Regions from separate parts of the Homo sapiens genome. Here regions 2 and 3 are each linked to region 1. The links come from fine-mapping of genetic effects on plasma protein levels. A gene starts in region 1. Each other region holds a variant in brackets. All regions are shown on one strand. Distances are between the middles of the regions.

Region 1 (8,193 bases):
ATTCTACTCCAAAGCTATTAAACCAACATGTTTGCTTTCTTTGATCACATTTATTTGTGTACAGTTTAAATGAGTTTCTGTATTAGTTACATTATTCATATCATTAACTTGATTTTTTTTGGTAATTTATATGCATTTTCTAAGCAGGAGAGACCATATGCCAGGACATTAAACAGCTCTTTTTCTTTGTTCGTTTTTTAAAACTCTATGGGGTTTACCAGTAAAACAGAGAAAAATGCTTGGCTTTTGTGTAAATTGAACATTTAGCTTTCTTTCAGGACAAATACATTAACTCTGATTGGGGGCCATTGATGTTCACTGTGATTAAATTATGGGATTTTGTGCTTCAGCATCTAAAGTTGCTTCAGAAAAGGTGAGAAGGAGGAACAAGCAAAAAGAGAAAGCTATTCAAAAATGTCTATTTAAAAGGCAGGATTGTTTTCTATTCAAAAATTTCTGTTTAAAAGACAGGATAGTCGCTGTGGGCTAGATACCATTAGACCTGTTCACAACACAGTCAAAAGACTACCTTTTCACCTGCAGCATTTGTTTCACTGAACAGATTACTTTAAAATAGAACTGAACTTCAGACCTATTGGAAATAAAATAGCAAAGTATTAAGGCAATGCACTCAGAGAAAGATATAATGAAACAAATATATATATATATTTGCATTAAGAGTCTCCGCTCTGCATTCCCTACACTTTGGAAAGAGTTTGACAATAAAAGACAGGTGAGATTACCCAAAGGCTATAGGAAAAACTAGCAATTACCACCACCTGCTAATGCATCCAGCGTGATCTAAACATGTGAAATACCATTTGCTTCACATACAGGACTACTGACTAAGAAACTAAGTTAACAGAAGTCTTTGGCCAGAAAACCCACTGTCCCAGGTGGCCATGGCTGAGCTACTCAGCTTTTCCCAGCAGGACAATAAGCTCATCCCTACTAACACAACTGTCCTTTCAAAGCTGCTCAGTTTAGGTTCTAATCTGCACAATAACCATGTGCCTATAAGAACTGTTAAATATTATACACAGAATGGCCTTCTGTTAGAGATCTTTAAAACATATTCTCTTCTTTGCAAAATGACACTGATAGTACCGCATTGCTTTTCATATTTGTTCAATATCACAGGGTATTCTGGGTATCCAGTAAAATGAATTCCTACAGAGTAATCACATTAATAAGATATGCTACTTATTATAAATATTTCATCTTTTTCAAGCCCAGCATTCTCTTCTGGTAAAATTTAATAACCATAGTTTTCACATACCACAAGCATTGCAGAAGTTTCAAAGCTAAAGTGAAATAGATGATTATTCCAGTTTTTGTTGTAATAAGTGTGTTAACTATTTTTAAAGAAATTTATCCCTATCAAAATCAACACTTTCATGAAAGGAAAAGATAATGGCTTTTTGACCCTGTATTAGATATCGAACATTAAATCTTTGGACGCTAGAGACTATAGAGCTTTTTCATTCAATTTAATTATAGTATCCTTAAAAAGCAAATGTACTTTTGGAACTCTAGAGATGTTCACAGTCTAAAATCACTGTGGGCTGGATTTCTATTGTTTAAATATTTCCTATTATTTATGCATGTGTTGACTGTCATCTACTTAAGTGTCCAAAGTTAGAAAATTTCCTTTCTCTAGAAGACTAAATCACAACATAAGAGTGAATGGCAAGAATTTAAAGAATAACTGTGATGCATAATTTGTATTGAACTGTTGAGAGCTAACCACAAATATTAAAATGGGCTCTGTATTTAGAGCAACTAATTATAATACTGGGAAGCAAACTGGTTTTCTTTAAAACCATCTGCACTTTATGAGCTGAAGTGACAAGCAAACCTTACAGAAAATGAAGAATCAAACTTACATTTCATTTTAATCTGGGAAAGTCACCTGGGCTTTGTTTGCAAGGAAAGACTAAATTTATCAATTATTGAGGGTAAATGAAATAGTCTCTACACTAAAAGGAAAGTTTGGTTACACAGGCCTGAAAGAAGGTGTGTAGATTAGGAACGGAATCAAGAATTTTACAGCCTTGATTTGTAAGACAGAGTAAGTTTTCTTCATCCTTTTCCATTTCAGAATTAGAAACAACCCTATATCCCTACTTTATTTGCCATCAGATGCACAATCAAATAATGTTTCTATTCACGTAGACTTGAAAGGATCTTCATCCTGTGTGGGTTATTTTATTTTATAGTAGCCAAGGGAAAGAGGTTGCTGCCAATATGATGCTAAGGGCATGCAGAATAAAGACAGTCCTGGGCAACTAAACAGTCCACCTTTGTGCTGCGCTTGTGGAAGAAAAAAGCAAACCCATCACAACTTTGGGACTTGATCAACAGTGGGGAGTCACAAAACTCTTCTCAATCTCTGCATTTTAAATCTCCACCAAAAATAGCTCCTCTGTAATGGGGCTTAAAGTCCCATCCATGGCCAGTGATGGAGTACAGTACTTAATTGTTTCTGACTAGGGTCTCTGCATCAGCACTCTGAGAGTGTCTTCTAACTTTTAATCGCCTTCTGTGCTCTTTAATTAGACCTGTTCACAAGACAGTCAAAAGAAAACGCCTATCACTAAGCTTATCCAAGACGTTGAAACATGCCATTTCAGGAGTCCAGGAACTTTTGTACAAGTCTTAGCATCTTCCAGGATTAATCTGTTTTCTCTGGTTTCCTCTTCCTTAAATCAGGCACACTTGGGGGAAGGGAGAAGCTCTATGGTTATTAAGACAACTCCAATGTAAAGACACTGCCTGGTGGCAATTCCCTCCTTGCCTATTTCCGTTCTTTATTTTGTTCTTTTACCGCGTGTTACCTTTTGGCTACTAATAGGACCGGAGGGTAAAATGTCTTTTCTCTCCTTCGGAAGAGAAAGCTTTTGATCCCTCACTGAGAGCAATCCTAAGACTTTCTCCAGGGGGCTGGGATAACTAGGAAAGGGCTCTGCTCTCTCAGAAGGATTTCAGAGCCCAAACCATACAGCGTCCCTCTTGCTTAGGCGGGAGATGCAAACAGCTGAAGTGCCTTGGCCCCCACTGGTGACCCACAGTAGGACCAACCTCGCCCCGGCAGCGCCCCTGGCCTCAGGTCACTCACGCTCCTGGACTCACCTGGTGCTGAGGACCAGCGCAGGCAGGAGAGGCAGCAGGTAGTGCGCTGGGCTGAATTTCATGCTGCTGCCTGCCGGGGTCCTCCTTCCCTCGCTGCCTTCTCTCTCTCTCTTCGGGATCCTGTCGCTCCTTGGTGCCCGGCTCTGTCCCCAGCCAGTGATGAGCGCTCTTCCGAGGCGGAAAGGCGGAGACGGGCACACGAACGGACGCCTGGGGAAGGCAGGCGCTGGGAGCGAGGAGTATCTTCAGGAGTGATGTCACCGGCGAGGCGAGCCCTGCCGGGGATTGTTCGGCGCCGCCGCTCCGGAGCCCGGAGGGCGCGCCGTCACTCGCGCTGGAGGCGGCGCGGGGAGAGGGAGGGGGCGCCTCGCGATCGCCCCGTGCGCTTCGGTCACCGGGCTGCGCTCTGGTCAGTCGGGTGAGCACTGGCCAGGGGCGGATCATTTATTCCCGCTGCTCCCCAGGATGGCGCGGGGCGGGGCACGGAGAGTAGAAACCTAATCTGCCGATAATTGAACTTGCGTACTCGGCAGGAGATGAGACCCAATTCACTGGGAGAGACTTCCAGACGCGTAGGGTCCTAGGCAGGTGTCTCTCGCCGCTTAAACCGTGTTTGGAAGAACGTCGCTCTGGAGAGAGTGTTTAGAAGATTGTTCTAATTAGAACTGCATAATGATTTGCCTGAAACAGATGGAAGGAAGCGGGAGTAAGCAGCGTCCAGAAATGCAACCTCAGCCCGTCATGGCATTGCAATCTTCTTAACCCGTGAATGTTGACTGCAAAGAACCAAAGAACGTTTCGGGACCGTTAAGACATCTGCTGCTCTGGGTTTTGAAGATTTCTGATCTTCCTCTGATTTCAGTCGTCTGTACCAGCACCTGCCAATGGGGTTGGACCTGGTGGCTCAAGTTCACACACCTGAAGGAGTCCTTTTCCTCAGGTGAAACTCATCAAGGAGACCTAGCGGACAAAAACCATTAAAATGTTAACAGTAATCAGCTCGGAATGATGGTACTGGAAGGTAGAGGTTTTGTAGGTCATTTGGTTTTCTATATTTTCAAATGTTCTATCATAAGCATCCAATATTTAATAGGCTCTATTTAGAAATTTTAATTAGAAAAATTAAATAGCACAATTATAATCCAAAACACCATTTTGCAAAAGCAATTCTGAGAAACAGAACTACTATCTCTGCTACTGAGATATTCAATTCTAGGATATTTATAAGATGATATTGCATGTGTGTGTGTGTGTGTGTGTGTGTGTGTGTGTGTGTGAGTGAGAGTGAGAGAGAGAGAGAGAGAGAGAATGAGAATTCCATCTGGATATTATCCTGGTTATATAACTGTGTATAAGGCACTTCTTCATACAGTATTTAATTTAATCTTCACAAGAGCCATCCTAGTGAAATAGACGTTAATATCACTATTATAGATATGAGCAGACTGAATATCATCAAAATCTGACTATGCATATTAAAAAAAAGAACTGGTTCTACTAAGTCCTAAGAAAAATTCCACTGTTGCCTCAAACATCACAACTAGCACTCCTAGCCCAGTGTTTGACACAAAGTTGTGTTCAGTAAAGGGTGAGGTGCACCAAAGTCCCGAAAGATAATGGACAGCTGTGTCCAGGAATTCCTATCTAGAGGTTTCAGTTCATGTTCCAATTATTTCGGGGGCAAGCTCTTTACAGAAAAATTTAGATGATACATCCTCTTCAATCTCATTTTCGAAGACATTTGTAGGAAAAATGCATTTGCTGTAAAGCTTTATTTTAAAGAGGATGCAAATCTAAAAGGTTAACCATCTAATTTACTATTTTTTTTAAATGGGATTGAAGGTTAAGACATGTATGTAAAACAGATTTGCTTCAAAATCTTGAGCTGCTGAACTAGATGAGTAATAAGTTTTGAAAAGTGAATATTAGCCCCTTGGGCAATAATAATAAGATCCACAACATTATCGATCTTGTATATGCCTAATAAGTAGGCATATACAAATAAACTAACATGTGAATTGCATATCATTTAAGAGAAAAAAACGACACCACACTTTTCTAAAACAGAACTCTGATTCCAAGTAAAATAAAAACTCTGGTTTGCTCCTGCCAGGGTTTTCTAACATAGATTCCCTGCTCACTTTGAAGGAGATTACTTGAGTTGTATACTCAACAAAGACATAAGGCTACTTGGCAATTTTTTTAATGTGTGCACCAGGAAATAACACTCATATTTGTAGAATACATTTTTTATATAACAACTTTGCATCCATTATCTTACGTCCTAATCATAGAAACCAAATGTGGTAGTTATTTCTAGTATTTTTCTCTTTTCCAGTTAAGGTGACAGTTTCAGAGTAGTTAAGTAACTTGCTCAAGGTCACTCAGAGACTTATATAGTGGCGATGGCATTCAAATTCAGTCTGCATTACTTCAAAATGTATGCTTATTTGAGAGAAAAACATTATACACATGTAAGAAAAAACTTTCCCCAACCTAAGTTTTTTTTACTTTCAACTAGACATATAACATAAAACAACAACCAAATTATCTAATATCAATGAATAAAAAAGTCAGAATGAACTTTCTTTACACTGTATCTATATTGGATATCTATAAAGAACCACAAAGTTTGTTGGCCTTTGTGCATTTACTGCAAGCCAAAAAGAAAAAAAAAAAAATCTCTCCAAAAGACATCTAACTTGGAAGGGCATGAGAGCAACATAGTAGGGGAGTACATCTTGAAAGGTATAAGTAAGATTCTGGAAACTCCCACAGATGTAGAGAATTGAAGTATTATTTTGAATTCAAGTACAGATGTGTCTCTCAGCAGAAGTCTTTTCTTCTAGGAAAATTACAAAACCAGGAATCTCCATCACCCATGACATTCTGTCCACATTGTCACATAAAAACCTAAATTCAGAATAAATTTTGTGGCTTTGGAGAATTGGTAGATGAATTTTAAAGATACATTAGTACAGATAGCAATTCACTTATCTTAAACTACTTATCCTATGCTGAGTCCTAACACTGGAGTCAGCAAGCATTGTTTGTGGTAACTGTACCCAAGTCTGAAAAAGAACATCAAGAAAACCCAAGCAGTTGTGCTGAGTCTCTATAAAGTGCTAGGATTAGGAGATATAGAAGCTGTTTTAAAAACAGCTTTATTGAGATTTAATTCAGGTACTAAGAACTTCACCATTTTAAAGTGTGTAATTTAGTGCTTTTATACACATCCATAAGATTATGAAATCATCATCGTTATATAATTCCAGAACATTTTCATCATGCCCAGAAGAAATCCTGTACCTACGAGTAATCACTCACTGGTCCCCACTTTATCCCTTCTCCTGAACCCCCACAGACACCAATCTAATTTCTCTCTTTATGGATTGACCCAAATCTTGACATTTCATATAAATTAAATCATACTGTATCTGGTTTCATATAACTACTCTCTTTCACATTCATGTTTTAAAGTTCATCTGTATTATAGCATATATCGTTACTTAATTTCTTTTTATTGCTGAATAATATTCCATTGTAAGGGTATACCACATTTTGTTTATCCATCCATCAGTTAATGGATATTATGGTTGTTTTCATACTTTCGCTATTATGAAAAACTCTGCTATGATCATTCACATAAAAGTTTCTGTGTGAACATCTGTTTTCAGTTCTCTTGGATATATACCTAGAAGTGGAATTCCTGGATCATATGGTAACTCTACATTTAACATTTTGAGAAACTGCCAAACTCTTGTTCAAGATAGCTGCACCATTTTACATTTTCATTAGTAATATATGAAGGTATCGATTTCTTTACAACCTTAAACTTGTTAGTTGCAATTATTTATCTATCCTTTTATTATTATAGCCATCTTAGCTGATGTGAAGTCTTATCTCATTTTTATAGGCATTTATCTGATAATCACTATCAACATATTTTCATGTGCGTACTAGCTATTCATACACATTTTTGAAGATACATTTATTAAATTATTTTTTCAATTAATTTTTGAGTTTTATTTTTGCCTAGTAAGAGTTCTGTCTATATAATGGGTACAAATCCCCCTTAGATATGTGATTTGCAAATGTTTCCTAATCCATGGATTTTCTTTTCACTTTCCTGTTGGTGTCATTTGCACCACAAATATTTTTAATTTTGATAAAGTTCAATTCACCTACTTTGAATGTTATGATTATACTCCTGAGGTTGTATCTAAGACAGCTTTGCCTCACACTAGGTTATGAATATGTATGCCTTTGTTTTCTTCTAAGATTTTTATTGTTTTAGATCTTAAAGATAGGTCTGTGAATCCAACTTTTGTGTATTTGTGAAGGAGGGGCTCAGCTCCATTGTTTGCATGTGGGTATCAAGTTCTCCTAGCAATATTTGTTAGAAAGGTTATGTTTCCACAATTTAATGCCCCTCTTATTTCATTCTTCACACAGTAATACATTTTTTCTTATTTCTGTTCTGTTTTCTGCCCTCATATTCTAAACTCTCATGTCCCCTAGTGTTTCATCCTTGATCCTCCTCTTTTAAAATTCTATATTTTCTTCCCAAGTTGAACTTATTATTTTTTATGGTTTTTACAATCTTCACTATGGTATGGATCTTAAAATTTACCCCAGCCTAGACTTCCTCGCTGAGACTTTACCTGGGTTCTATATGAATACCTCAAAGTCAAATTCAATCACATTGAACACTTACTCATTCTTCCTCTGTCTGACCCTTCTTCGGTATATCTCCTTATACTTCCATCAACTCAGTCACCCAAGTTTAAACCTGAGAGTTGTCTATTGCTTTTACCTCCACCTTCTCCCACATATAGTCAATCACCAAGCCCTAGAGATTTCACTTCCTAAGTATTTATTTATAACAATTGTCCCACCTCTATATGACACCTGTCATCTGGGCTTTAATTAGAGGTAACCATCTCTTGATTCGGAGTGTACTTTTTACTTTAAGATGGATTTTCCTCAAAACTATTCCCCTTGTATAATCTATCTAAACTGCAAATATCGTTATAATCTTAAATCTCCTAGAAAATTACT
Region 2 (8,193 bases), 530 kb before region 1:
GTTAGGAATGTAGCTAAGGTAACCCTTTGTAGGAAGATGTATAATTTCTAAATGCCCATATCAAAGAAAAACAAAAGGCAAAAAAAAATTTAAAAGCTGGGAAAACAACTCAAATAAATTAGAAAATGCTGATAGTAAAGAGAGGGACACAAATTGTGGGAATAGAAAACAAAATTAGAATGAAAAGTATAAACAGAAAAATTAACAATTTGAAAACAATATAATACACATCTTTCAAGCAATATTGATAGGCACAAATAAGCTATTTGGAATGAGAAATTTGGCATAAAATGTTTGCAGCTGAAGTTTAAAAGACATAAAGGCAACACCACATAAACTTTAAATCCATTGGAAAACACATAAGCAATTGAGAAATTTCAAGAAAAATATAATTTTGCAATATTTACTGAAGAAATAGTGGAAACCTATTTATCAAACGGTATCAAAAATACAGTAGTCTGGGCATGGTGGCTCACGCCTGTAATACCAGCACTTTGGGATGCCGAGGCAGGTGGATCACAAGGTCAGGAGTTCGAGAGCAGCCTGGCCAATATGGTGACACCCCATTTCTACTAAAAACACAAAAATTAGCCAGGTGTGGTGGCACGTGCCTGTAGTCCCAGCTACTCAGGAGGCTGAGGCCAAAGAATCGCTTGAATTCGGGAGGTGGAGGTTGCATGAGATGAGATCACACCACTGCACTCCAGCCTGGGTAACAGAGTGAGACTCTGTCTCAAAAAAAAAAAAAAATATATATATATATATATATAATATATATTGTATTATATATATATAATATATATTGTATTATATATATAATATATATAATATATATTATATATATATAATACAATATATATTATATATATATATAATATATATAGTAACACACATATACACAAACACACGCTACACATACAAATTGTGAGTAGCTTTTTGCAAATCAAAAGATTAGTATTTAGAATTTGTAAATAATACTTATAAAGCAATAGGTAAATGAAAAAATTTAAATAAGAAAATGGTAAATACATAGTCATATCTCAAAATGAGGAAAACAAATTATGTATTAAATTAGGAAATGATGGTTTTATCTCTTATGTAATTAAGAAAATGCAACTTAAGACCCAGTGAGCTACAATGCTATAGCAGATCAGCAAAATTTAAGGCTTAAAGTAACAAGTATTGGTGAGTACATGGAATGGAATAAGAGTGGTCATCCACAATATTTATATAAATAAATTTTAAATAACTATTTTTGGAAAAAGAATTGTCAATATTCTTTAATGTTGATAGACACTTGGCCTTTGATCTTACAACTCACTTCTAGTTCTATATTCTAGGCTATGTTTGTAGAGATATGAAACAGAATGGTTTTAGCTGCATTGCTAATAAGAGCAAAAGCTGAATTATCCTTTCTATCAATAGGAGAATAGAGAAATAAATTACAGTATTATCTCATACTTTAATTTGTTAATGAGAATTAATTGAACTACAACTACCAGTAACAAAGATATCCTTGAAATAAATATTCAGTGAAAAATGTGAGTTCCAAAAATTAGAGAATATTACTGATTCTATAAAATTCAGAATAATCAATACTAGCCATATTTCTTAAAGACAAATGTATATGGGAGAAAATGCACACAAATATGCAAACACACAAAGGTTGGGAACGATAAACACAAAATTTAGGACAAGCATTTTGCATGAATACCCATCTAATGTCAGTAATCTTAATAATGCCCCAAATCATGTGGTTATGTTGGTTGGTAAATCTATGTGTGCTTGTTTTATTATGTTATGTACACACCTTACATAAAAATAAAAAATAATTACTTGGTAGTTACAAAATATATCTATTGACATGGCAATTGTTTATACTTCTATAAAATAAAATGTATCACAAAACAACATATACAATAGTATCCTGTAAAAATGTGTATATGTAAAGCAAATTTTATGAGAGAAAAAATAAAATGTAAGGTACTTTTTTCCTTCTTGAAATAATTATACTTTTTTTTTTTTTTTTGAGACAGAGTCTCTCTCTGTAATCCAGGCTGGAGGGCAGTGGCTAAATCTTGGCTCATTGCAACCTCCGCCTCCCGGGTTCAAATGATTCTCCTGCCTCAGCCTCCCAAGTAGCTGGGATTACAGGTGCCCACCACCATGCAAGGCTAATTTTTGTAATTTTAGCAGAGATGGGGTTTCACCATGTTGGCCAGGCTGGGCTTGAGCTACTGATCTCAAGTAATCTGCCTGCCTTGCCTCCCAAAGTACTGGGATTACAGGTGTGAGCCACTGCACCCAGCCGATTACACATTCTTTATTTCTTTTTTAAAGAGTGTTCATATTTGAAGTATTGTTTTTTATTTCTTCTAAATTTATTTTTAAAAATTGTGTGGGTACCTAGTAGATGTACATATTTATGGAGTACATGAGATGTTTTGATTCAGGCATGCAATGTGAACTAAGCACATCATGGAGAATAAGGTTCCCATCTCCTCAAGCATTTATCCTTCGAGTAACAAACAATCCTCTTACACCCTTTATTTAAATATGTTAAGTTATTATTGAGTATAGTCACCCTCTTGTGCTATCAAATAGTAGGTCTTATTTATTCTTTCTATTTTCTTTTTGTAGCCATTAACCATCTCCTCCTACCCACCAGGTCCCCACTACCCTTCCCAGCCTCTGGTAGCCATTTTTCTACTCTCTATGTCCATGAGTTCAATTGTTTGATTTTTAGATCCCACAAATATGTGAGAACATGTGATGCTTGTCTTTCCGTGCCTGGCTTATTTCACTTAATGATCTTTTAAGTTCTTTGTTGCCTTTTGTTTAGCTTTTGCCTTTTGCCTAATATAGTATAGTTTGTTTCCAAATAAGCAAAATGATTTAAAGAATATAAAATACTGTGTGTAAGAACAAGATTAATTATAGTCAAGAAAAATTTTAGGAATATGACAGAGGAATTGAGGCTAGAAACTAGACCCTAGGACTATCTTATGGATGAACTGGATTTTCAAATGAGACAGATCAAACAATATAAAATGGAAAGAAAGTAAAAAAAAAAAACATGCAAATTAAAAATGGTACATAATTCTACTCTACTGAAATAAAAAATGGTACACGATTCTACTTTCTAATTAAAAATAGTACATAGAGTTCAATTGTTTTAATTTTTAGCTCCCAGAAATAAATGAGAACGTGCAAAGATGGTCTTTCTGTGCTCAGTTTATTTCACTTAACATAATGTTCTTCAGTTCTATGCTGTTACAGATGAAAAAATCTCATTCTTTTTTATGGCTGAATGATCCTTCATTATTATATACACCACATTTTCTTCATCCATTTGTCTGTTGATGGACACTCAGAATGATGGTTCCCATAAGCTGGGAAGGGTAATGGACATGGGGAGTGGGGATGAGAAATGGGTATAAAAATATAGTTAAATATAACGAATAAGAGCTAGTATTTGATAGC[A/T]CAACAGGGTGATTACAGTCGACAATAATTTATTGCACATTTAAAAATAAATGAAAGACTATAACTGGAATGTTTATTAACACAAAGAAAGGATAAATGCTTGAAATGATGAATACTCCATTTACCCTGATGTGACTATTACGCATTGTATGCTTGTATCAAAATGTCTCGTATAACCTATAAGTATACACACCTACTAGTACCCCCAAATTAAAAATTAATTAAAAATAAATCAAAAGTTAAAACTGGGATATGAATATTCTCCACGTAGCAAGTTCCAATAGACGGAAAGTATATTATATCAAATACTAGTTGATAGATTTGAACTCCGAACTGGGGAACTTAGATTTTATCCACTAGCCAATGGAAAACATTGATGGTATCTAAATCTAAACACCTTTTTTTTTTTTTTTGAGACGGAATTTCGTTCTTTCGCCCAGGCTGGAGTGCAGTGGCGTGATCTCAGCTCACTGCAACCTCTGCCTCCCGGGTTCAAGCAATTCTCTGCCTCAGCCTCCCGAGTTGCTGGGATTAACAGGCACCCACCACCACGCCCGGCTAATTTTTTTATTTTTAGTAGAGATGGGGTTTCACCATCTTGGCCAGGCTGATCTTGACCTCCTGACTTCGTGATCCACCTGCTTTGGCCTCCCAAAGTGCTGGGATTACAGGCATGAGCCACTGTGCCCGACCTAAATGCTAATTTTTAACATTGCAACAGCTGTAGAAATAATAACTGATAGAGTTCGTACTGGTAACTTCAGCAATGGCCAGATGATTCAGTTAAAATTTTATATAGACTAAAAATAAAAACTATGAAGGCAGAGAAAAGAACAATGAAGAAGTTTATGGGTGCTTCTAAACTTAATTTTTAACTAACATAAAGTTGATAATAAAGTATAAATAATGTAAATGATGACACATATTATTAATCAAGAGGAGAATTATTCTAAATTAATCATGAGAAATAGAATATTAGCACTCCCAAAGTGATTTGAAGATAAATATCACTGTACTAAGCTGTATTATGAATTATCCCATTATTAATAAATGTGTATAATAATATTTCAAAATAACATAAATCCTTGTTACATTAGAGGAGCTAATTTAGCAATGATTTATTTTCTTTTGCTAATAATTTCTGAGAAATGATCAGTAAATATATTGCTTGTATACAATGGTATTGTTAAAAAATTTAAGATCCTGTAATAATTCAGGAACCCATTTGATATTATGTTTGTGGATGGTTGTGATCTGTATGCATAGGTGATTATTTGCAAATGGAAGAACACAGGCAAATGTTTAATTAAAATCTGGGACAGTGAATCTAATTTAGGAGAGGGTCAAGATTTTACTGGTTTAAAACTTAAAGTATAATAATAAAAAAATAAATAAAGAAAGAAAAAAAATAATAATTAAAAAAATAAAAAAAATAAAAAGGTGAAATAGTACAACAAATCCTCTGAATTACTTTTTCTTCTTTTCTCGGAGATAGGGTGGATAGCAATGACAGTTGTTATATACAGAACTCTTGTCATGTGTCAGAAAAATATAAGTTCACTGTGTACACTGTATCATAGCAACCAATCATGCTACCTTTTAAAAATGAGGGAACTACAACCCAGAGTTTAAGAAATTTGTCCAAATTTAACAAAGCAAGTAAATAATAGAGGCCACACAAATAATCACCCCTTAATTAGTCAATGCTAATACTGGACATTTGTAAAAATTAATTAGAAAAAAATAATCACATTTTAAGGCAATAAGCTTAAGTTCTTTTAACCTACATTTCTTACACTCTACTTTCCAAACACAGCATCTCTGAAGCATATTAGAAGGAATAGTATTCACAATCTAATAATTTATCTCTAGAGGATAGTTTGTAAATACCAAATGTTAAGCATTCAATTTTCATATACATTCCAAAATTTTCTGTTATAACTTCAAATGATTGCTTTTCATCTTATTTTATTTTATTTTTACATGTTTTTATTATACTTTAAGGTCTAGGGTACATGTGCACAACATGCAGGTTTGTTACATATGTATACATGTGCCATGTTGGTGTGCTGCACCCATTAACTCATTATGTACATTAGGTATATCTCCTAATGCTATCCCTCCCCCCTCCCCCTACCCCATGACAGGCTCCAGTGTGTCATGTTCCCCACCCTGTGTCCAAGTGTTCTCATTCTTCAATTCCCACCTATGAGTGAGAACATGCAGTGTTTGGTTTTTTGTCCTTGCAATAGTTTGGTCAGAATGACGGCTTCCAGCTTCATCCATGTCCCTACAAAGGACATGAACTCATTCTTTCTATGGCTGCATAGAATTCCATGGTGTATATGTGCCACATTTTCTTAATCCAGTCTATCACTGATGGACATTTGGGTTGGTTCGAAGTCTTTGCTATTGTGAATAGTGCCACAATAAACATACGTGTGCATGTGTCTTTATAGCAGCATGATTTATAATCCTTTGGGTATATGCCCAGTAATGGGATGGCTGGGTCAAATGCTACTTCTAGTTCTAGATCCCTGAGGAATTGCCACACTGTCTTCCACAAGGGTTGAACTAGTTTACAGTCCCATCAACAGTGTAAAAGTGTTCCTAGTTCTCCACATCCTCCCCAGCACCTGTTATTTCCTGACTTTTTAATGATCGCCATTCTAACTGGTGTGAGATGGTATCTCATTGTGGTTTTGATTTGCATTTCTCTGATGACCAGTGATGAGCATTTTTTCATGTGTCTGTTGGGTGAATAAATGTCTTCTTTTGAGAAGTGTCTGTTCATATCCTTTGCCCAATTGTTGATGGGGTTGTTTGATTTTTTCTTGTAAATTTGTTTAAATTATTTGTAGATTCTGGATATTAGCCCTTTGTCAGATGGGTAGATTGTAAGAATTTTCTCCCATTCTGTAGGTTGCTTGTCACTCTGATGGTAGTTTCTTTTGCTGTGCAGAAGCTCTTTAGTTTAATTAGATCCCATTTGTCAATTTTGGCTTTTGTTGCCATAGCTTTTGGTGTTTTAGACATGAAGTCCTTGCCTATGCCTATGACCTGAATGGTATTGCCTAGGTTTTCTTCTAGGGTTTTTATGGTTTTAGGTCTAACATTGAAGTCTTTAATCCATCTCGAATTAATTTTTGTATAAGGTATAAGGAAGGGATCCAATTTCACCTTTCTACATATGGCTAGGCAATTTACCCAGCATCATTTATTAAATAGGGAATCCTTTCCCCATTGCTTGTTTTTCTCAGGTTTGTCAAAGATCAGATGGTTGTAGATGTGTGGTATTATTTCTGAGGGCTCTGTTCTGTTCCATTGGTCTATATCTCTGTTTTGGTACCAGTACCATGCTGTTTTGGTTATTGTAGCCTTGTAGTATAGTTTGAAATCAGGTAGCGTGATGCCTCCAGCTTTGTTCTTATGGCTTAGGATTGACTTGGTGATGCGGGCTCTTTTTTGGTTCCATATGAACTTTAAAGTAGTTTTTTCCAATTCTGTGAAGAAAGTCATTGGTAGCTTGACGGGGATGGCATTGAATCTATAAATTACCTTGGGCAGTTTGGCCATTTTCGCAATATTGATTCTTCCTATCCATGAGCATGGAATGTTCTTCCATTTGTTTGTGTCCTCTTATTTCGTTGAGCAGTGGTTTGTAGTTCTCCTTGAAGAGGTCCTTCACATCCTTTGTAAGTTGGATTCCTAGGTATTTTATCCTCTTTGAAGCAATTGTAAATGGGAATTCACTCATGATTTGGCTCTCTGTTTGTCTGTTATTGGTGTATAGGAATGCTTGTGATTTTTGCACATTGATTTTGTATCCTGAGACTTTGCTGAAGTTGCTTATCAGCTTCAGGGGATTTTGGGCTGAGACGATGGGGTTTTCTAAATATACAATCATGTCATCTGCAAACAGGGACAATTTGACTTCCTCATTTCCTAATTGAATACACTTTATTGCTTTCTCTTGCCTGATTGCCCTGGCCAGAACTTCCAACACTACGTTGAATAGGAGTGGTGAGAGAGGGCATCCCTGTCTTGTGCCAGTTTTCAAAGGGAATGCAGATCAACGAGACAGAAAGTTAACAAGGATATCCAGGAATTGAACTCAGCTCTGCACCAAGCAGACCTAATAGACATCTACAGAACTCTCCACCCCAAATCAACAGAATATACATTCTTCTCAGCACCACATCGCACTTACTCCAAAACTGACCACATAGTTGGAAGTAAAGCACCCTTCAGCAGATGTAAAAGAACAGAAATTATAACAAACTGTCTCTCAGACCACAGTGCAATCAAACTAGAACTCAGGATTAAGAAACTCACTCAAAACCACTCAACTACATGGAAACTGAACAACCTGCTCCTGAATGACTAATGGGTACATAACGAAATGAAGACAGAAATAAAGATATTCTTTGTAACCAATGAGAACAAAGACACAACATAGCAGAATCTCTGGGACACATTTAAAGCAGTGTGTAGAGGGCAATGTATAGCACTAAATGCCCACAAGAGAAAGCAGGAAAGATCTAAAATTGACACCCTAACATCACAATTAAAATAACTAGAGAAGCAAGAGCAAACACATTCAAAAGCTAGCAGAAGGCAAGAAATAACTAAGATCAGAGCAGAACTCAAGGAGATAGAGACATAAAAAACCCTTCAAAAAAATCAATGAATCCAGGAGCTGGTTTTTTT
Region 3 (8,193 bases), 21 kb before region 1:
GCTCACTGTAATCTCCACCTTCCAGGTTCAAGCAATTCTCCTGCTTCAGTCTCCTGAGCAGCTGGGATTACAGGCCCACGCCACCATGCCTGACTAACTTTTGCATTTCTAGTAGAGATGGGGTTTTACCATGTTGGCTAAGCTGGTCCCAAACTTCTGACCTCAGGTGATCCGCACACCTTGGCCTCCCAAAGTGCTGGGATTACAGGCGTGAGCCACCACGCCCAGCCACACAATCTGTTTTCCTAAAAGATTACACCAAATGGCAACACCCATTCACAGAAATATTAAAGTATAGAAATACATATCTAGGGAACTAAAAACACGCATTGTCCTATTTCCCTCTGGAGCTAATGATGGTGCGGACTGAGGCATCATATCCACTCTCTTGACTTGTCTGCAACCCTGGAAAACCCTTGGTTGAGTTTTTGGTGGTTGGCCTAAGGATGATCTTTGCTATTCCCCATGCAATGGGAGTCCTCTCTTGGGACTGGTAATTAGTAAACCTGCTTTGCACTGACAAAAAATAAGTTTCTACTGTTTCACTGCTATGGCAATTATCTATCTAAATGTACCATTAAGGTTTCCTAAGCCTAGTCTGGCTCTGGTATTGGTTCCTGTATAAGTAGCATTTATGCTGGCCTATGCTTCATTGTACTTCTCCTGCCCCCAAAAAGGATAATTAACATACTAACACAAACATGTGAATGAAAGACAAGACCACGTTTTACAATTTCCTTTCCCTTGCTAAAGTTTAATCCAGCAACTTATTGAAATTTAAATTTACATGAGAAGATTCTTCTGTACAAGTGCAATAATTATACAACCTTTTCATTATATGTGTGCTTTCTCCAGACAGAAAAACAGAAATCACATCTGGTTTCTGTGGAAGGGGTTCCTTCAAAATGGTGTCCAAATGCAACTACAGACATAAGTATTTATTGCAGTCATTTTTTAAATCCTTCCCTGTTTTTCCTGTTGATAACAGTTCCATTTCCAAATATTGCTTTTCGGTCATACACTAGTGCGTTTTAGAGTAGATATTAACCTTTTTTTGTAAAATGTGTTTTATTCAATTCTGTTGGTAATAATTCCATTGCATCTTCTTGACAGCTGTCTTTCTACCTGATTTCCCCTTTTAAGGGTACACAGGTCAATCTTCAAAATTCTCCCATTCAAAATTCTCCAAAACTAAAGATCTTGTGGATTTTATGCTTTATTATGCCATTTTAAAAATCACATAGCTATGTAGCTTCTGAAATCAGACAAAAACCCAAGGCAACTAATGAAATAAAAGAAATCAGATTATGAAAATAAATCATTAATAATAGTAACTCATACCAATATTTGCTGATGTTGTTATATTGAGTTACTAGAGAGGAACAAAGGTACTGTGCTGTCAACAAGTATCTTCATGTCTAAAGATTGTCTGAACTAAAATTATGAAAATTATGTGCAATCACAAATTAATCATGAAGCAAAATTATTTTGAAAAAAGCCTTTTTTAAAAAAGATGCATATTATCATTAGAATGCAACTATATTGACATGGCAATAATTTACTAAAATCTGAAGTGCAATTCTTCACATCAAAATAGTAAATAAATGAAATTCCAAATTAACCAAGACATGAAAAGACAGCAAATTCCAGTACATGTGTAGAACTGCCTCACTGAAGCTGTATCCTGGATGAAAGGCGAAACCCTTTCCCAAGGACTTTTCACTAAGATAGTTTTGGAGGAAGACATAGTAGGTCTGCTCTTCTAATGTGTTCACCACACAATTTCATTTCTGGAGATCTCATACTTATTTTCTTCAATTGTTTAATTGACTTCAGCACAAAATATTATAAACATAACTAAACAATAAAATCTCAAGGAATGAATCTTACATTCAAAACTTTATCTTTCTCCCTAAAACTACATCCGATTTCCTAGACAGTTCCAGATGGCCTGCTGTATTCTCCATTCAAGTACAGGAGTCTCCAAAGCTCAAGACTCATTCTAGATAAAGTTGGGTTGAGGGGTACTGTTAACAGTCCTTATATACAATCCTAATGGTCTGAAGTCAAAGTAGAAAATAAGATTTGTAGTCAAAATATAAAGAGGATGGTATGACTGTGAGAGCAAACTGAGTAATGAAACTGTAAACGTGAAAGAGCCAATCCCTCAACATGAATCCTGAGTGGATAACAGTGTCTAAGTTTAAAATAGAGCCCAAAGGCCATTTGCTACCTAGAGCTCACACATGTACTCAGTTCCAGAAAACCCACACGTCTACCTAACTTGGGACTTTCATAGCTGACTGTCCTTGTTCACGTCACCTGAACCAACAAATAGAGTATGATCTGCATCAAAATAATCAGAACTCAGCTCTGTGAATCAATCAGCACTAAGCAAGTTTGAATCCTTCATTTGCATAAATAGACTTGATTGGGAACTTGAATAGAAACTTTCTCTATAAAAGCCGAACCCTCTCTTTGCTCTCTGGAATGCCCCTTTGTTTTATGCAGTCTTCCCAGTTTGCAAACTGTTCACTGGAATAAAGTTTCTTTCCTCCAAATTCTTTTTCAGAGAATTTTTGGTCACAAAGCCATGTTCTGTTTATTGACTAACTTTGAACTAGGCACAAACAGTGAAAAGATCAAGAAGAAAACAACCCTAATAAATGTGCATAAAAACCCACTATCATCTTCTGATATTTCAGTTATCATCTTAACATTCTAAAAACTATTTATGGACTAAGGACACTCAGTAACTATACTCTTTAATAATTTTTAACAGTTTCTCTTCCATTCGTTTTAAAAAGGAGGAAGAAATTTCTCATTTAACACTTACAGAAAGGATAAAACACCCTCAAATAGCTTGTTATCTTGTTAGCCCAGACTGTAAATATACAATGTTACAAGGGGAAAATAGGCATATCAGACATTAAAAAAAATAATCAAAGATCTTTAACAAACATGGCTAAAGTTATAAGAACCTAGATGTTAGATTCATGCAGCTCTGAGCTTAAATTCTGATTTTACCATTGACTCATGGATTAGATGAAGCAAGTCTCTTAACTTAGCTAAGCTTTAAATAAGTTAAATTATCTCATTTATATAAATTATCTAACTTAATTAAATGAGGTCATACCTAACACTTAAGAACTAATTTTTTATTTGTTTGAATTCAATGTTATCTTATTCATTAATAACAGCTGATTAATTATAGGCCTTTTATCCCCTCCCTCTAAAAAATAATTTCTCCTACATTTCCATTTCATTTTCCACATGAATAGAAACTTAATGGATAGTGTTAGATAAGCATCCAATATTTCAAAAATAATCCCTGGAATATGTCATTTTAAAAACCAAATGATGAAAAAATGTATTATTTTATGGGAGGAAAATTGTTTTCTCAGTGATTAAAAGACAGGAATTTTCTATAATTAAAAAGAGCCTGTTATACACCATAAACATGAGAAACACAAAAGGATTTTTCTTTCTTCAGACACAATATAAAAATAACCATGGGAAGCAAAATGATGCCATTTTTCAATAAGTCAAGATTAAACTCTCATTTAACACTTCAGACTATCTGATAAATTCAACCTTCTAAAATGGATTTTTAAGAAAGCAAACTATGGATTATTGGCTCCACAATTTACAATAATCAGTGACGTGACTGATGCCCTCATTGAAGTGATTAATGTTTTTGGAGTCATTATTTAGATATATGAAAAAATAAATAGAACATTTTTTAAATATAAAAAACTTACATAAAATTTAATATGTACCTACAATTTTTTTTTTTTTTTTTTTTTTTTTTTTTTGACGGCGTCTGGCTCTGTCACCCAGGCTGGAGTGCAGTGGCGGGATCTTGGCTCACTGCAAGCTCCGCCTCCCAGGTTCACGCCATTCTCCTGCCTCAGCCTCCCGAGTAGCTGGGACTACAGGAACCCGCCACCACGCCCAGCTAATCTTTTTGTATGTTTAGTAGAGACGGGGTTTCACTGTGTTAGCCAGGATGGTCTCGATCTCCTGACCTCATGATCCGCCCACCTTGGCCTCCCAAAGTGCTGGGGTTACAGGCGTGAACCATCGTGCCCGGCCTGTACCTACAATATTTTTAACCTTTAGCAATAGTTTTTTGGACAGGTGACATAAGATTATCTTATTCATGTTTCAATTAAGATTTCAAATAAGATTTCATGCATATGTTTCAACTTAGAACACAAAAAATATGATAAAGAAAAATCTTTGTATTTTGTATTAGGAAAGGTTCAAAGACAAAAATAACAGATGGTAATAAGAAATTATCAAACCTGGAAATAAAGCCACATAGAGAGCTTGGCACATAGATTGTATCACAGAGTTTATTTCTTGAGTATGTAAAAATAAGTAACTCACAATCTAAGCTGTTGAAACTAAATTTTATAGCCTTAAGGGAATGTGATTATGGGACATAAGTCACATAAACAGGCAGCTGTTACCTAGGCAGCTGTAACCTAGAAAACTGTAATTTTTGTTTCTCTAATTATAGATTTGCCTTCTTCCTTACCTACATTGTTTTGTAAAATATT[A/G]CAAATGACTACACAGCACCAGGAAAGACCTCTTCCCTCTTCAGGGCTGATCTTCATTTTAGATTAACTTCTCTCTTACCTTTCTCACAGAAAAACTTCATGCTGTCATATTGTCTTAAGATGGAATGTTAAATATACACTTTTAAATTGTAAAGAAAACCAGCCACACAAAAAAGAAAACAAACTTTAACCAATTAAAATGTTGTTACTCATAAATCAGCCTTGTGTAGAAAATGTTGTAATCCTGTTATATGTCTTTGTTTTCTTCCTATGTAAGCACAACTTTAACTTTTAGCTTTGGAGCACTTATCCCATTTCTCTGGAGTCCCTGTAACCTGGGTGGCTATTCCCAGATTTTTACTTGAATAAACTCATTAAAACTGGATTCTGATTATTTCAATTATTTCAGATTGACAAGTGGTCATAGAATTTCATATTCATATAAGACCTATCCAAATTCCATACAAATAATTTTAGGTTTTACATTCATTTCCACAAATTAACAGGAAAGAAAAGTAACATATATTAATCAAGTGTAAGTGTCAGGTCTTTAAAATCTGTTAATCTGTTAATCTTCAAAACAGGTCTTCGAGATTGATTATTTTCCCAATTTAACTGAAAAAAAAAATCTACTATAAGAAATTTTCAACAGCCCATCCAAAATCACATAACTAGTCATGTGGAAGACGGGGATTCAAATCCAGGTGGATCAGCCTCTGTCTCAGGTCAGTTTTCACAGAAGCAGAGCATAATCAGGGCCTCCTTTGGAAAGCTGATTTATCAGGGATAAATGAGAACTTTCATAAGAAAGAAAAAAAACATGACAGGACAAAAAATTCAGCAAGGAAGTGGTCCCAGCAGAATAGCTTTACCCAGTCCCTAGGGGAGCTCTGGAGCACAGGTTGTACCACAGAGGTAAACCCACCCTGATGCACAGAGCCTGCTGTTTTTACATACATATTAGTCAGTGCTTGTTCACTACTGGAGAGCCTATGATTAGTTCTGTCATTATTATTATTTTATTTTAGCACCTTTCACATTGCTATTCTCTTCCTGGAATTTGTTTTCCCAAGCAAAAATTTTTGGCTAAAAAGTTCCGTCTACGTTTTGAAACCCATAGGAAAGTCATTACTTCTGTGACACCTTACACAGCTATTCCCAGAGCTGGGAAACTTTACTCTTTGCACTTTTTGTCTCCCTCTCCTTCTATGAAGGATGTATTTTCTTTAATGCATCTGGGCTCCCAAGCACTTAACATTATTTCCTGGCATATTCCCTGATAGATATCAAGTTCTTTGTGAATATTAATTGAATTAATTTATATATCCTTAATTGCTATAAACCAACCAATTGCCAAGTTATCCCTCTTGCTGGTTGTAAAAAGTGTCATTTACAGATGGGGTCTTTCAGCTCAGTAGACTAAACTTCTGTAGGAAGAGAGTAAGTTACAGAGGATGTGTAGTATTCCTAGAATACCACTTCTCTCCTCTTACCTCACACATGCTAGGCACAGTATACGGTTTTATAATCTGCCTCAGGAAAAAATAAAAATAACATTCTAGATGATTGTGTAACTCCTACATCAGAGGACTTAGTTAATTTCCAAGAAGTTATTATGAACTTTCCGGTTCTAAACTCTGCCCTGAAATCGGGGAAATGGTAAATAATAGACCTTCTAGCGTCCTTCACTTGCAAGCATTAAGAGCTCAAATCAGCAGAGGTTTCAATGACAACGATTGTTCACCACACCCTTTGGTCTTACTAACAATAATTCATTTACTCTCCTCTTTAGGACCTCTGACCTAAAGTCATGTAAAAAGTCTCCTACCCTAAAGAGCTTGATCCTGAACCAACCAGCAGTTTTGTGAATTTAGCTTTCCTTGAGCCAGGCCGCTTTTACAGAACAGCCCTCACCTCAAGGACTAAGTCTTACTATATTTCTTTCTTCAACACCAGTGGGGAGAATTCTTTTAACAATTGCCCTGATAAATAGATTCATGTAATCTTATTGCTGTGTTGTCATAACCTTCTTTTCTCACACTTGGGAATATCAAAAGAAAAAAAACTAATAAATTAAGAAAATTATGTTAACAAAGTTTATTTACATAAACAAAGAACATCCATTCAGTTGGTTCTGTATGACGATGGTACCCTGCAATTCCCCACAAAGTGAAATTTATAATCATTCCATTGACAAGTGGGCTTGATAGAAGGAGAGGCACGATCTTATTATGTGTTTTCCCTTAATACTACAATATACCTTCCTCATTCTGTGCTGTAATGCCTCAGGGCTGCTCTCCTTCTCAGCTGCTCTGAGATGTGGATACAGTTTATTTGTTCAGGATCACTGAATTGTAAAGCAAATTACTTATTCTGAAACCATTCTTATGCTAGAATGCTCTCAGTTTCACCATGGATGAGGAACCAAAGACTGATCATCACCATCTATTTCTTTCTCTCTTTTTCTCTGCCACTTTGTCTTGAAATTTTTAATTGCCAGAAAAGAAAACACACACACACACAACCAACTAGTTACTCTCTGCATTCAGTGGAGGATTTCTCTCCCACCAATCAAGACTCCTCTTCCACAGCCCCTTGCTGAATGCCAGGGATATGCCACATGCTTCTGTTTATGGGCACTGTTTAGGGGTACCACTCATCTTTAAGACATTTTATTTTCCAGAGGTCTGCTTGTATCCCCAGCCAGATCAGCTTCTTATTATAGAACATAGCCAGGGAATCCTAACTATGCTTGCAGAATGCACTACACTTGGACACTTCAAAACATTAAATCCGTTCCATGCTTACGTGGTCCTCCAATTAGCATTCTGTTTGGCAACTCTTATTTTCCCAGCCTGTCAACTTTTCATCACTTCTTTGAGATAAACACTGTCTACATTCAGACTCTGAAAGGTCAAAGAGAGACAAAAGGTGGTGATCTTCCAGAAGAGTAAGGTATTCATTTCTACCAGCATTTAGTGATTGTTTGGTATTAATGGAATTCATTGACTGATTTTCCATGGCACACCCCAGGCTTTAGAATCAGAGTATAGTGCCCAAAGCATGGCCCTGCAACTTACTGTAGCTATAAGTAATGACAGTCAGAAAGTAGACACAGGAAAAACCATATGAGTCACGTATTATATAGATCCTAAGAATATTCAAAAAGAATATTTACCCTTCTAATTATTTAAGGAGACAGTCAAAACAGCAACACAATTTTAAAGTGGCTATTGATATTTTAATGTTTTCATAATATCTGAAAATAGTTTAAGACATAGTCATTATCCCAGGATAAAGCTCATCTATATCGTTCTCTTGATGCTGATTGTAAAAATGAAATAAAACCTTACCAACGACTGCTAAAGGATGAAGGCTAACCATCATATGACTCTGTAGCTTTTCTTTCAAATATAGATGTTTTTAGCTAAGATATGATCAAGTCTTTTGTGAATCCAAAAACAGGCAAGGGGGACTTAATTTTTAGCTATTTTGCATGTCAGCAAATACAATTTTAATTATTTTATTTTTAGGAGAAATTTGTGATATTAGCTTGTTTCCATGTTTTGAAAGAAAACATGATTTGAAAACATCAATACCATCTATTTTCTTAAAATAATAGTAATTA

Alleles and levels. Alleles are on the strand shown, and positions count from the first base shown. The strength of an association depends on the size of the effect and on how common the allele is.
In carriers of allele A in region 2, the plasma level of the protein whose gene starts at base 3,385 in region 1 tends to be higher than with T alone (strong association).
For the plasma level of the protein whose gene starts at base 3,385 in region 1, G is the high allele of the variant in region 3 and A is the other (moderate association).

The links. PIP is the posterior inclusion probability: the model's chance that the variant is causal. Protein levels are from antibody-based Olink assays in UK Biobank. Linkage for the fine-mapping came from a reference panel and not from the study's own genotypes, which makes the PIPs less certain.
Region 2: its variant is fine-mapped to the plasma level of the LUZP2 protein (UK Biobank, PIP above 0.99).
Region 3: its variant is fine-mapped to the plasma level of the LUZP2 protein (UK Biobank, PIP 0.99).

What each region holds. Positions count from the first base shown.
Region 1 is chr11:24,492,245-24,500,437 of GRCh38, reverse strand. It overlaps LUZP2 (leucine zipper protein 2), which reads right to left and starts at 3,385. Exons shown (of 12, transcript NM_001009909.4): 1 at 3,133-3,385. The coding sequence starts at 3,194.
Region 2 is chr11:25,023,573-25,031,765 of GRCh38, reverse strand. The region is part of intron 9 of LUZP2 (leucine zipper protein 2); the gene reads right to left. Among named protein-coding and RNA genes, the nearest start is that of LINC02699, 430 kb to the left of the region's middle. The variant A/T (reference allele first, on the strand shown) is at 3,484.
Region 3 is chr11:24,513,106-24,521,298 of GRCh38, reverse strand. The region is part of intron 1 of LUZP2 (leucine zipper protein 2); the gene reads right to left. Among named protein-coding and RNA genes, the nearest start is that of LUZP2, 20 kb to the right of the region's middle. The variant A/G (reference allele first, on the strand shown) is at 4,566.